2 linked regions of the Homo sapiens genome follow. The protein of the gene in region 1 purifies or fractionates together with the protein of each later gene. This does not show direct contact. Each region holds a gene or a part of one and is shown in the gene's direction. Other genes may lie near its edges.

Region 1 (3,749 bases):
CACAGAGCCTGACTAGTTTCTTGTGTATTGCTCTAGAGACATCCTAAAGCCAAACAAGTGGGCATGCATACACATATGTATATTTTAAGGGGCTACATTAAAAATATTTACTACAAGTACAACCAACTGGAATGAAGGCCCATGGTATATAGGATGTGCCAAAATGCCTACTGCATATTATCAGCCTTGCATGTATTCCTTGCTTTTATACACTAGTTTGCTTAAATTGCTTTTATCATCTAGTAATAATTTGGAGATTGTTCCACATCAGCACACGTAGAGCAACTTCATTCTTTTCAATGGTACTGTATTTTAACCACTTTCTACAGAAGGATCTTTAGGTTTTCCCCAGACGTTTGTTACTCGAAACAGTGCTCTAACAAATATCTTTACACAGCCTTAATTTATCTGTTGCATAAATGTCTAGACAAGGAAATGCTGGGGAAAACAGTATGCACATATAAAGTTATGACTGGTATTATTACATTTCCTTCCAAAGAGGTTTATCGTTTTTATCCCCACCAACAATGTAATGAGGGTCTACTTCCCAAACCCATGCTAACTCAATATATCTTTACCAGCCCAAAGGATGAAAAACAGTGTCTCACTGATTTAATTTGTATTTAATCTAAGATTAAATTTTAAGTTTTGTAAAACCAAGTTTATCTCTGTAATTGGAGAAAACATCATCCATTAACGTGAAAGGTAATAAGCTGATGAGACTAAATTCAAAGCAAAAGCTCGCTGAGAGGATCTGCCCAATGAGGAAGATGACAGTAGTGTCTGATTTTTTGCTCAGTGCCACCTCCTCCTTTTCCAACAGATAGCATTTGGGAGTGCTGAGTTATAAGAAAGTGTGGTGCGCTCGAGGCTTGCTTGAGGGTATGGAAATCTTGAGATAGGTCTGGAGAACCAGGGAGAGTTAAAAGAGAAAAAAAGTAAGAAAAAAAAAAGAACTTAAGGACTATCTGATCTGAGAGAGGCTTACAAAAATTAGCGTTTTGGTTCACTATTTCTCGCTATTTCTGCATTTCATTAACTGGCAGGGATCACTGGATACTCTGTCATGAATACATATGTTGGGTGTAGTTAGAGAACCTCAATGTCATTGAACCCGTCTTGTGGGTTTTTTGGAGAGAATGAGAGTATGCTGGGAGACATGCTCTGCTTGCAAATGATCAACCCCCGAGGCCAACCCCATTCATCATTTATTTTGAGGAACTGATGATCAAGACAGGAATATGTATGCCTGCCTACAAAATCCTCAAATCAGGCCACTGAATGTTCGACATGAGAACTTTGAATCACATAGAAGATACTCCAAAGGCAGAGAAAAATAGAAAGCCTTCCGACGCCCTGAAAAAATCTTGACCATCCCTGACTTCCCCCAATATGTAAGAAAACCTGTATTATTATTACACACACACTCCCACACACACCCCGCCCTCCCCCACACACACACCCTCTATCCTCACTCGATCTTATTCTATTCGCTCTATTTTTGAGCCTTGGATGTTAAAGTAAGGAACGAAGCTTAGTGGGGAAGCACTGAAGTGCATGGCGCAAATTTAGATTTAAGCCTCACGTTAGATTTCAGATTTGCACATCGAGTCCCGCCCCTATCCAATCCGGGGACGTCACCGCCCTAGTCTTCGGCTGTTTTAAAAGCAAGCGGTTTTTAAAACCCCCAATCCTGCTCTTTGTGTTGGCCTCCTCGGAGTTGCCCCTCTGCAAGCCAACAATTCGGGATAGAAAACACCTCCGTGGTGTTTTCCCGGGGCCCTCCCGCGCCGCGTTCGGCCGCCAGCCCGCTCGAGCTCCCGCGCCAACGCCTCAGGGGTTCGCCCTCCGCCCCCCGCCGCCGCGCCCGGCCCACGCGCAGGGCCCCTCTCCAGCGCCCCCTCCCCGGCACGCTGCGGCTGGCGCTCCCCAGCCCCGCCTGACGCTGCAGCTGGGCCGGAGACTCGCCATTGGATTAAAAATAGCGTCGCCAGTCCGCCCCAAGCCCGCGGTGCCCGCTCCCGCCCCGCAGCCCGCTCTCCCCGCCCGCCCCGGCTCGGCCGGCTGCCGTTGCCCGCGCAGCCCGCCCGTCAGCCCGCTCGCTGGCGCCGCCGCCGCCGGCAGACCCCGCGCTCCGGCTCCGGCTCGGCTCGCTCGGCTCCGGTGCGCGCCGAGGCCATGCAGCGCCGGGGCGCCCTGTTCGGCATGCCGGGCGGCAGCGGAGGCAGGAAGATGGCTGCAGGAGACATCGGCGAGCTGCTAGTGCCCCACATGCCCACGATCCGCGTGCCCAGGTCCGGCGACAGGGTCTACAAGAACGAGTGCGCCTTCTCCTACGACTCTCCCGTAAGTGAGGCGCCTCGGGGGAGGGTCGCGGGGCCGGCGGCCTGCGGCACGTGAAGCCGGGGGAGAAGATGCGCAGTGGCGGCCGGGACCTCTTCTCTTCCTCCGGGCGGCAGAGTTGGCTCAGGAACACTGCAGTTCGGCAGACACTTAGTGAGCGCCCCAGGGCTGCTGCAGCCGAGGACTGGCTCGTGCTGGTGGTTTTGCTCCGCCAGCCTCCCCAGGCTGGAAGGGCCCGATTCCCAGCAGCTTGCACACAGCCCCGCCGCCGTTTAAAGATAGATGAAATACAAGAGTTCCCTGTTCCGAACTGCACGTTGCAGATCGTTTGCGTCCTCCGCGGGGCAGAGCGCAGGGCGGGTAGGTGGACGGGATGATCCCCCCACACCCCGGGACACACACAGCCCTTCTTTTTCTGGGACCACTTGCTTTGCTCAGGGATCCCCACTTCTGGACAATTCTGATTTGCTCTCTGAGCTTTTCTTCCACCAGTTCCCATTTCACCCCACTCCTTTTCTTGTCTTTAGAATGTCAGGGCCAGGCGCGGTGGCTCACGTCTGAAATCCTAGCACTTTTTAAGAGGCGGAGGCGGGCGGATCGTTTGAGGTCAGGAGTTCGAGACCAGCCTGGCTAATATGGCGAAACCCCATCTCTACTAAAAAAGAACCCCAAAATTAGCCGGGCGCGGTGGCGGGAGCCTGTAGTCCCAGCTACTCGGGAGGCTGAGGCTTGAGAATCGCTTGAACCGGGAAGGAGGAGGCTGTAGTGGGCCGAGATCGCGCCACTGCCCTCCAGCCTGGGCGACAGAGCGAGACTCCGTCTCAAAAAAAAAAAAAAAAAAATGTCAGACGAAACCTTCCGGTGCCTCCACTCGGGCAGCAGAAATAGGGGATCTACTGGATTGCGATGGTTTTCTTAAGCCTTCCCCACCTTGCCCTTCTAAATGAGTCACTTGGACTGACATGCGCAAGTATAAATTATTAAAAGTTCAATCCCGAGTCGTGACCTCGGAGAATGAGGAGGAAGCTGAGAGGGATCGCCGCCTTCCACCCGGGGCGGTTGGTGGTGGTTTTCACCTGGTTCTATGTGAATGTGTGAGAAGCAGCAGGAGGGTGAATGTCCCTTTCAAAAGTCAAAATGGGCTTCAAAGTGACTCAGCTGTCTGGCGTTTATCATGTCTTTTTGAGGACCAGGTTATTTTTATCCACCCACTTTAGATCTCATATGTCACCCGGCAGATCTCAATGCATTGGGAGGCGCATGGATTGGATGGACCGAGGCAGGTCTCGCAATGGTCTAATGTATTTTATTCATAGCATGTGGACTATTGTCAGAGGGGAAAAGAAAAGTCCAAATGAGCGGCAACATTTCCAAAGTTTCCTTTATTATCTGTGGGTTGATTTTGG
Region 2 (3,749 bases), on another chromosome or scaffold:
AAAGAATATTCATGTCATTGAGCCTTTATGTAGATTAAGTATATTAAAATGTATGTATGTATTTTTAATTTTTTTGAGATAGGGTCTTGTTCTGTCACCCAATCTGGAGTGCAGTGGTACAAACACAACTCACTGCAGCCTCCACCTTCCAGGCTCAGCGATCCTCCATCCTTAGCCTCCTAACTGGGACCACAGGCATGTATCACCAGGCCCAGCAAAATTTTTATTTATTTTTTTGTAGAGACGAGGTCTTGCCATGTAGCCTAGGCTGGTCTCGAAATCTTGGGCTTAAGCAATCCTCCGACCTTGGCCTCCCAAAGTGGTGGGATTAGAGGCATGAGCCACTGTGCCCAGCTTAAAATATGTTTTTATGAATTGGTAGCATGTGTCTTACATACCCTTAATTTAACAAGATGTCACAACATATGTCTAAAATAGCTTGTTGGTAACTTTTTTTTTTTGAGATGGAGTTTGGCTCTTGTTGCCCAGGCTAGAGTGCAATGGCGCAATTTCGGCTCACTGCAACCTCAGCCTCCTGAGTAGCTGGGATTACAGGCATGCACCACCAAGCCCAGCTAATTTTGTATTTTTAGTAGAGATGGGGTTTCTCCATGTTGGTCAGGCTGCTCTCAAACTCCCAACCTCAGGTGATCTGCCTGCCTCAGCCTCCCAAAGTGCTGGGGTTACAGGCGTGAGCCACCGTGCCCAGCTGATAGTAACAATTTTTTTTTTTTTTTTTTAATACGAGTCTCACTGTGTCACCCAGTCTGGAGTGCAGTGGCATGATCTCAGCTCACTGCAACCTCCACCTCCTGAGTTCAAGCAATTCTCTGCCTCAGCCTCCCGAGTGGCTGGGATTACAGGTGCCTGCCACCACGCCCGGCTAATTTTTTTGTATTTTTAGTAGAGGTGGGGTTTCACCATCTTGGCCAGGCTGGTCTTGAACTCCTGACCTCGAGATCCACCCACCTCAGCCTTCCTAAGTGCTGGGATTGCAGGCGTGAGCCACCATGCCCGGTGTAATTTTTTTTTTTTAAAACTTCATTTTTTGGTATTCCAGCATCTTATGTTACATTTAGTTGTCATGTTTCTTTTATCTGCTTTAATCTGGACCAGTTCTTCAGTTTTTTCTTGACTTTTGGGACTTGACATTTTAAATTATTTGTTATAAAGTACATATATTAATATTTATGTACTTATTAATTGTATATTATATATAATTATTTGTCCCTAATCTCTTTTTTTTGGAGATGGAGTGTTGCTCTGTCGCCCAGGCTGGAGTGCAGTGGCGCGATCTCGGCTCACTGCACCCTCCGCTTCCCGGGTTCAAGCAATTCTCCTGCGTCAGCCTCCCAAGTAGCTGGGACCACAGGCACATGCCACCACGCCTGGCTAATTTTTTGTATTTTTAGTAGAATGGCGTTTCACTGTGTTAGCCAGGATGGTCTTGATCTCTTGACCTTGTGACCTGCCTGCCTCGGCCTCCCAAAGTGCTGGGATTATAGGTGTGAGCCACCATGCCTGGCCCCTAATCTGTTATAGTGATTTGCCCACTTTAAGTTTTTGGTGACTCACCTTTAAATGTATCCAAAACCTCAGTGAAGTTTTAAAGAAAGAGCTGTTTACTTTGTACTCATATTCTCACTTTACATAAAGAAAAAAATATATAGTGGGGAGAAAACACAACAGCCTCTGTAGGCATAAACAATAGGTAGGTAAAATTGCGAGGAGTGTAGCCTGCTGTTTTTGGAAGTCCAGTCGTGCTGTGGGTTTTAGTTGTGATACTTTGTGGAAGGAGTGGAAAAGTTGGGTTAATCCAGGCAGTTCTTTATATGGTTAGTATAGTCTGAACTGATAGTTAACACCTCCTTTCTTGAAATAAAATGAGTTTTCTCTTGAGTTTATGAAACCAACCTCAGCAGATGCCCTTTTTGAAGGTGCCTCCAGTGAGAGAATTTATTCATTTTTTGTCATGCTTGAAGTTCATTATTTTCCAGTATTCCAGCCACACTTTTGGTTATCAGAATGACCACTTGTAAAGATGAAGCCTTTCCTTTGGACAGAGATGATTTTATGGCGCTGATTTTGTTATGTAAATAGCCTTTTTTTTGAGACAGCCCCACTCTGTTGCCAGGCTGGAGTGCAATGGTGCGATCTTGGCTCACTGCAACTTCTGCCTCCTGGGTTCAAGCGATTCTCCTACCTCAGCCTCCCATGTAGCTGAGATTACAGGCGCCCGCCACTGCTCCCGGCTAATTTTTGTATTTTAGTAGAGACAGGGTTTCACCATGTTGGTCAGGCTGTTCTCGAACTCCTGACCTCAGGTGATCCGCCCACCTGAGCCTCCCAAAGTGCTGGGATTACAGGCGTGAGCCACCGCGCCCGGTGTAAATAGGCTTTTGCCTCTTGGTATAATCCTAAATTAATTTTTCCACAGTGTATTTTTAAAACCTGCAGTATGAAAAATAAAATGTCTTTTTGGTGGTTTTATTATGCTTTATTACAGTTCATTTATGTGATACATATCCTACATACTTATCAAACTTAAGTTTTTAGACTTTTCTAACTTATGTCAGTGGTATCTTGGCCGTAGCAACTGCTGTGGAGAAGGGGAAGCTCTTAGATAGTTTCAGTGCAAACTAAATGTTTTCTCTTTTCCAGGTTGTAATGCATTTAATAAAGTCTACAAAACATTATATTTTGAATTTAATATAGGTAGCTTACTTTATTACTGGTTCTGAGTAGCATCATGGTGTCAGAAAGGGAACCATTAGTGTTCAGATACACCTGGAAAAAAACAAAGTATGTAGGACTTAAGAAATACTGTAAGCTGCCAGGCGCAGTGGCTTACGCCTGTAATCCCAGCACTTTGGGAGGCCGAGGTGGACGGATCACGAGGTCAGGAGATCGAGACCATCCATCCTGGCTAACACGGTGAAACCACATCTCTACTAAAAAATATAAAAAATTAGCTGGGCGTGGTGGCGGGCGCCTGTAGTGCCAGCTACTCGGGGGGCTGAGGCAGGAGAATGGCGTGAACCTGGGAGGCAGAGCTTGCAGTGAGCCAAGATTGCACCACTGCACTCCAGCCTGGACGACAGAGCGAGACTCCGTCTCAAAGAAAAAAAAAAAAAAAAAGAAATATTGTAAGCTGTAATGCTAGTTAATAACACAACAGTCTGAATTGTTTAGGACTGTAAAAGTTGAAACATTAATTTAGGAAAACTGACTCTTCAAGGTTTATACTCTTCTTTTAGCATGTGTTCAGATAGCCTGGGGATGAATTAAGTAATTGCTGCAGAAAAGTTAAATTTTACCTAGGGAATTTGTTAACTCTTTTATGGTTTCAGATACCACTGAGTCCCAAATTCCTTATGTGTAGAATTAAAGGGTTTAATTATCCAAGATGTTAAAAGTCATTCTGATTATCCAAGATTTTTTGAGACAGAGTCTCGCTGTGTCACCAGGTTGGAGTGCAGTGACACAATCTCAGCTCACTGCAACCTCCCCATCCTGGGTTCAAGTGATTCTCCTGCCTCAGCCTCCCCCAGTAGCTGGGACTACAGGCGTGTGCCATCACGCCTGGCTAATTTTTGTATTTTCAGTAGAGACGGGGTTTCACGATGTTGCCCAGGATGGTCTCCATCTCTTGACTTCATGAGCTGCCCACCTCGGCCTCCCAAAGTGCTGGGATTACAGGTGTGAGCCACCGCGCCCGGCCAATCTAAGATTTTGTGACTCAGTAGTAA

What was found. Proteins that work in one complex are often made in the same cells at the same time.
Region 2: the proteins of USP13 (region 1) and SMC3 purify together in Homo sapiens (affinity purification with mass spectrometry; 4 studies listed by BioGRID and IntAct, with this or other methods). This does not show direct contact.

Annotation. Positions count from the first base shown.
Region 1 is NC_000003.12:179,651,048-179,654,796, forward strand, and holds the start of USP13 (ubiquitin carboxyl-terminal hydrolase 13), read left to right. Parts: upstream 1-1,992; 5' UTR 1,993-2,178; coding exon 2,179-2,346; intron 2,347-2,610; exon of another isoform or gene 2,611-2,625; coding exon of another isoform or gene 2,626-2,703; intron 2,704-3,749. UniProt on the Homo sapiens protein: Deubiquitinase that mediates deubiquitination of target proteins such as BECN1, MITF, SKP2 and USP10 and is involved in various processes such as autophagy, endoplasmic reticulum-associated degradation (ERAD), cell cycle progression or DNA damage response.
Region 2 is NC_000010.11:110,584,569-110,588,317, forward strand, and holds part of SMC3 (structural maintenance of chromosomes protein 3), read left to right. Parts: intron 1-3,749. UniProt on the Homo sapiens protein: Central component of cohesin, a complex required for chromosome cohesion during the cell cycle. The cohesin complex may form a large proteinaceous ring within which sister chromatids can be trapped.